Homo sapiens: one gene and its partner. The protein of the gene in region 2 interacts with the protein of the main gene of each other region in a pairwise test. Each region holds a gene or a part of one and is shown on either strand. Other genes may lie near its edges.

Region 1 (3,500 bases), on a different chromosome or scaffold from region 2:
GAGGGCTTGAGACACACTTCAGCAGGGTCCCTCACCAAGTGGATCACACACCAGGCAGGCACCACGCCAGGCGGGTCGCACAATAGAGTGGGATCATATATCGGGCGTTTGTTTCTCCATCTGCAAAGGGCTCTTCTGAAGCAGGTGACTCCTCTGCCTCATGTTTCCCAGCTCCCCCATGCAGAGATGAAAAAAATAAATACATATATACATAAGGATTGCAACATGTGAAAAATGAGAAGCCATTAAGGGGCAGGAGCCCTGGAGGAAAGGCCCACCCCTCATCCACCATAGTGCAAGTGCATGCAGGTGGTCACCTGTGCTCTCCACACGCTTCCTGCTTCCATGAGGGCATGAGGGCACGTGCAGGCTCAGAGCAGGTGCACAGCCTGATGCCAAGGTCCTGCTGGAGCGGAGGGTGACAGACCTGCTGAGTGGGGAGCCTGTGGCGGGAGATCGCTTCCAGACCATTCATTGTTCAGCTCAAGGCAGAAACAGAGAATTCATGGAGATGTCAGTCACAATTTTCTTTTACTTTATTTGGAACCAGTGTGAGCTAATAGAGTGTGTTTTGTGTGTTGTGTGCATATGTATATGTGTGTTGTGTGTCTATGTGTTGTGTACATATATGTTGTTTTTGTGTGTCTGTGTATGCATGTGTGTGTCTTGTGTCAGTATTTTGTGTTGCTTGTTTTGTGTTGTGTGTTGCATGTGTGCTTGTGTTGTATAGGCACCTGTATGCATGTATATATGTGTGTTGTGAATGTATCGTGTGTTGTATGTATGCATTGCATGTGTCTATTTGTTGTTTGTATGTGTGCATATGTGTGTGTGTTGTGGGTCTGTGTCATATATGTTTTTGCTTTATGTGTGTCCGTATGCATGTGTGTCTTGTGTATTTTCTGTTGTGTGTATGCTTGTGTTGTATAGGTGCCTGTGTGCATGTATATGTGTATGTGTGTTGTGTGTATGTGTGTGATGCATGTGTTTGTATGTGGATACAATGGCTTACAAAGGGGACTGTTATAGGGGACCTTTGAATGTAGTAAGTTCTCCCTCATTAGAGGTGGATAAACATTATTTCTTAGAACATAGGAATTTGGGTGAAGCTTGCTTAATAACAAAACATGGTGGTTGCAGGTCATTAGTTCTTTTGCCCCATGAAAAGGGATCATCCTCATGTGGGGCAGCTGGAATCCCTCCGGCCCATATGGGACATTGTTCTGACTGCTTCCCTTCTGGATCAGGAGCCTTTTCTGCGCACTCTTCCTCGGCAGGGTGAGGTACCAGGCCTTCCCTGCCTTCATGCACCAGCTGCGGCTGTGGCCATGTTCAGAGGAGGCAGGAGTGCCACACTGGACTTGCTAAGGGGCACAAAGAGCCTTCCCATTTTCCCAGCCTGCACCTGTCACATAATGCTCCCCTCTCAGGCATGAGCTAATCTCCTAGTCCTTATACTACAGTCTTTGTTTGCAGAGTTTTGGGTTAGAAAACACTTGAAAGTGGTTGATCCCAATAACAGAATCGAATTCTTGGCCAAAGCAAACCTCCTTTTCTCAAGGAAGGATGCCAGCCGAGAGGCAAGTTACAGATAGCAATGAAGAAATAACCTGAGGCTTTTCTCTGTCTTTGTGGGTGATAACATCAGCGGACCACCAGCTAGGCGTTAAGGAAGGGATAAGATGCAGCTAGAAGAAGGCCAGAAGGCTAATCCGTTCCTGACATGCAGAGCTAAACACGCTACCCTGAGATTTGCTCCATGGTTGGTTTGCAGGGCTCTTACTCCCTGCCTGCAACTTGGCTCTGACAGTGGTAGTTTCAAGAACTCCGTTGTGCGTTTGAATGCTCTGCTCAGATTTCATGGCCGATTGAGAGAACCTGGTAAGTCAGTGTCATGTCCAGTAGCTTTTGCACTGTGCCTTGGCAAGGTTATCCGCTTAGCAGGTAGTCCAAGCCAGTGTCTAACAGAATAAGTATTTCTTGGCTGAGCTGAAGGAAAGAGCAGAGGCCACCAGCCACATTTGAGGAGACTTTCTTCTTACTTCCAAAGACTAAACAACAACTGTGTAAAATTACTTCTGTCATGGTCAGGGGCCAGTAGGTCATAAGAGAAAAAAAAATCCACTCAAGCAAAAGCTTAAATAACAAAGGATGTGTTATGAGGATTATAGGGATCTCACAGAACCCAGCTGCAAGACCTTGGAGGAAAGGGAAGGTCAGCACTTTCATGCCCACTCTCTCTCTCACCTGTGTTTTTATTTTGGTCTAATTCATTATTGTCTTCCTATGGATAAATGCCATGCCCAAACATTTGCTTATACATAGTCCATCAGAGGGCTTCATTCCCCAATTTTATATGTGCCCCCACTACACATCTTCCCAAGCATAACTTTGTCAGTCTTGTCTTTCTGGTTTCAAGTTCGAGAGAGAGAGAGTAATGCTGGCTGGCTCAGCATTGCTGAGATTGATGGCTCTAATGGCAGCAGCTGTCTCATTTCAATCAGCTGTTGCTGTGGCCCAGCGGGCAGGGTCATGGGCCACCTAGTGCTGTTCATCATCTCGGGCTTGGGGCGGAGCAGGTTCTCTGAGAGGGAGGGAGGGAGGGAGGAAGCAATGGATCTGCCACTGCTGTCAAGCATAATGTCATCTTCACTAAAATTAAAGGCTGGCATGAAATTGGAGGTTATCTCCAATGATCTGCCTGGTCAAACTATTTGCAAAGAAAGTTGGTCTAAATCAACAAAGTGAAAACAAGCTCTGGCTGCTTTTTGGTCTTCCAGTTTCCTCCAGTTGGGTTGGGTGGAGGAAGAGATGAAGACTCTCCAATCAAGATGCTTCTCCCTCTCCTGCTGTCAGGCTTAACTCCTCCCTCCAAGCCAAGACTATGGCCTGAGGCCAGGACAGATCCACTCCTGCAGACCCAGAAAAGGCAGGGCTGGCAAAACCACAGCCTGCAGCCCTGCAGTGGGACCTCATCTAGATCAGAGGCTTTTATCTGTATTGCCAGTAATCAGTGGAGACTCAGTATTACAACTTAAAAATAATGTAATAAATATTTTTCATTTGAATGTGTAACACTTGTAAATGATTCCACTAACCAGTAATTTCCTTTGTCGTGCAATTTATTATTGTTCAGAAGTTGATTCTGAACAGCCCAAGGGCCCATCTTCCTTTTATAACAACACCTACAGGAGAAAAAAAAAAAAAGCAAATCTTCTTACGGATTGTTTAATACTGGCCCTGTTTTGTCATTTTGTTGTTGTTTTATTTTGCTTTTTTGCATCTTTGTGAGAATTCATTTTCTTTTATACTCTTGGTACTTCTTATCGCTTATTTCTACACTGTTTGAAAGGTTTGTCTTTGTTCTTGTAGCAATAGTTTTGCCGTTGTGTGTCTACTGTACTAAGACTTGGGGCTCAATGAGCTTTTTGGCCCATTTGATTAACTTACATATTTTTCTCCATAGGAAGCAGCCATCAGTTGCTGGGTCCAGTTCAGTG
Region 2 (3,500 bases):
ATTATACTTTCCCGCCAATTTTCATTTCTATTCCATGCTTATAAAAACTACTCTACTTTTTTTTTTCTTATGGTTTATATTGTGAATTTCTTTTCTTTTAAGACGGAGTCTCACTCCATCGCCCACTAGAAATGCAATTTCAGCTCACTACAACCTCCGCCTCTCAGGTTCAAGCAATTCTCATGCCTCAGCCTCCCAAGTAGCTGAGACTACAGGCACCCGCCACCACGCTCAGCTAATTTTTGGGTTTTTAGTAGAGATGGGGTTTCACCATGTTGGCCAGGCTGGTCTTGAACTCCTGACCTCCAGTGATCCGCCCACCTTGGCCTCCCAAAGTGCTGGGATTACAGGCGTGAGCCACTGCGCCCCGCCTGTATCTTAAATTTCAAATAAGATATATTCAGAATATAATCTAAATTTTAAAACTAATTGCTTTATATTCCATTTTAGCGTTATTAGTTTTTAATTATAGTAGCTTATATTTTTTGTTGAAAAAAAAAAGGAAAGAAAAGAAATGAAATAGTAGGCTATTAAGGGAAAAGTAAAATAAGAGTCCCCATACTTCACTTGAGCCCAGGAGTTTGAGGCTGAGATGAGTTATGATCACATCACTGCACTCCAGCCTGGGCAACAAAGTATCTCTTTAAAAAAAAAAAAAAAAGAGTCCTTGTGTTGACCCTCTAATTTCATAATGAACAAAACAAACAAACAAAAAAAACCCCTGCCCTTCTGCCCTTGTGGAGCTTAGATTCCAGTAAGGAAAAACAGGTAATTTACCAAATAATCACACAGACAACGGTGAAACCACAGTGTGATTAGTACTACCAAGGCTATGAGAGCCTGGCTAAGTGATTCAGTCATGTAAGTCAGGGGAGGCTTCCCTGAAGAAGTGATGCTTTTAAGTGAGAAAAGGCAAGAAGGAATGAAGTAGTCGGAGAGGAGGGCAAACCAATTCAAGCAGAGGAAAGGGCATGTACAAAACCTCCTGTCCTTCATTCATCCTATCCCCACTTTTCAGCCGCTATATGCACTTGGCAATCCAGATTTATCTATTTTTAAATGCCTCTTATATCCCTGAATCTCCATTCCCAACACCAGCAACTCAATTCCGATACTTGTACTTTTGTACATGGATTAATATAAAGAGCCTCTAATTGGCTTCCATGATATTATTTCTATTTTGCTACTAGAATAAAGTTTCTTAAAACTTTAAGAATAAATTGCATGCTCTTGCTTTAAAATTCTCAAACTGGGCCAGGCATGATGGCTCACACCTGTAATCCCAGCACTTTGGGAGGCTGAGGTGGGTGGGCTCCTTGAGCCCAGCAGTTCAAGACCAGCCTGAGCAACACTCCATCTCTATAAAAAAATACAAAAATTAGCTGGGCATGGTGGCATGTGCCTGTAGTCCCAGCTACTCAGAGGAGGCTGAGGTGGGAGGATCACTTGAGCCTGGGAGACTAAGGCTGCAGTAACTCAAGATGGTGCCACTGCACTCCAGCCTGGGAGATAGAGTGCAGCCTTGTCTCAAAACACACACAAACACACACACACACACGCACACACACTAAAATAAAATTCTCAAACGGATTAGAGGAAATCCCTGGGCAAGGGTCTGAAGTTGAATAGAACATACTGATCTTCAGGTGACCCAGCTTCATCTAATCATTTCTATTACAGAGATATTTCTCTTTTCTTATGAATCAAATCCTAATAAAACAGATAACGTTTCTTTATCACCATCCAATAAATAGAACACAGACAAAAGAACAAATAAATCTTCAAAGACATCTGTTTACTAGCCTATCCCCGCTTAACTCTTCCAGGTTCCTTTAAGCCACCTGGCCTTATTTCCCACCACCCAGCATTATAAACCCTCTGTTCTAGTGAGGTGTGACTTTCCCAGAAACACAGATTGTGCGCTTCTGTTTCCATGCAGTGTTTTCTCATTGCCAAACATGTTCTCCCCCTCCATCTTTTCGACCTATCGTAATTTCATCTTCATTCTTGGAACTCCCTCCCTTTTTTCTGGCATGCCTACTACAGCTGTCCCTCTTTCTAGCCTACACTACGTAATTTAGTCTTCATTACCTATTTGGGCAATCTTTGATTCTGTCCTGGCCCTTGTCCCCAAAATGCCTAAATTTTAATGAGGTCGACATATGCTATACTCAGATTCAGCATGTTAAGAATATCGTAACTCTCAATAAATGCTTGTTGGTGAAAGACTCACTATACTTTCTGGGTAATCAAAAGATGATTATCTACTAAGTGAGTTTATAATAGAGTTGTAATGAAGTACTTGACTATATACTATATAATGCTTCAAATATATTCAAATGCAGGAAATATGATCCCAATTCTGCAAGAAAAAAAGTTGCTTATATATTCATGTGCAGAAAATGTCTAGGTTATTCAAGAAGTTAACGTAGAGGGTGTGTGGGAGAATGGAGAAGAAAGAAGACACACATTTACTTTTCACATTATATCCATCTATTCCATTTCAATTTTTTAAATGTCAAACATAAATTAGTTCCATAATCATAAACTAATAACATTAACTAATAATGTTGAAGTAAAATATAAACCAAATGTTTTTTTAATTCTATTCATTCTGAATATACCTTATTTGGAATTCAAGTATACATTATAAAAAAAATTTAAGGCCAGATGTGATGCCTCACACCTGTAATCCTAGCACTTTGGGAGGCTGAGGTTGGTGGATCACTGGAGCCCAGGAGTTCAAGACCAGCTTGGGCAACACAGCAAAACCCTGTCTCTACAAAAAATACAAAAGTTAGCCAGACGTGGTGGCAGGTGCCTGTAGTTCCAGCTACTTAGGGGGCTAAGGTGGGAGTCCAAAAGGTTGAGGCTACAGTGAGCTATGATTGCACCAATGCACTCTAGCCTGGGCAACAGAGCGAGACCCCGTCTCAAAAAAGACAGAAAAAAAAAGTATATATATACTATATGTGTACATATATATATATATACACACACACACAGAGAATTCTTAAGACTTTATAAACATGGAGTGAAAACAAAAATTGGAGTAAGCAAAGTGTAAACTTGAATTGCTAGAAGTTTAGAAACATATATATATATATATTTTTTGACACAGATCTTGCTCTGTCACCAGGCTGGAGTGCAGTGGCACGATCTCAGCTCACTGCAACCTCCATCTCCCGAGTTCAAGTGATTCTCCTGCCTCAGCCTCCCAAGTAGCTGGGACTACAGGCACGTGCCACCACACCCAGCAGATTTTTTTGTATTTTTAGTAGAGACGGGGTTTCACCATGTTGGCCAGGCTGGTCTCGATCTCTTGACCTTGTGATCTGCCTGCCTCGGCCTCCCAAAGTGCTGAGATTACAGGCGTGAGCCACTGTGCCCGGCCCTGGAGATATATTTTTGAATAGACCTTACCAAAGTTCATTTGTTACTATGAAACCATTAAGACATAAAATTCACTAAGCTCATTTTATCTAGTTTAACATAAGCTA

The links.
Region 1: the proteins of TRAPPC11 (region 2) and TMEM132D interact in a two-hybrid assay, tested with the Homo sapiens proteins (one large-scale study listed by BioGRID).

Annotation. Positions count from the first base shown.
Region 1 is NC_000012.12:129,075,026-129,078,525, reverse strand, and holds part of TMEM132D (transmembrane protein 132D precursor), read left to right. Parts: intron 1-3,450; exon of another isoform or gene 3,451-3,466; coding exon 3,467-3,500. UniProt on the Homo sapiens protein: Regulate neuronals morphology via inhibition of the WAVE regulatory complex (WCR), a complex that controls F-actin cytoskeletal dynamics.
Region 2 is NC_000004.12:183,686,793-183,690,292, reverse strand, and holds part of TRAPPC11 (trafficking protein particle complex subunit 11), read right to left. Parts: intron 1-3,500. UniProt on the Homo sapiens protein: Involved in endoplasmic reticulum to Golgi apparatus trafficking at a very early stage.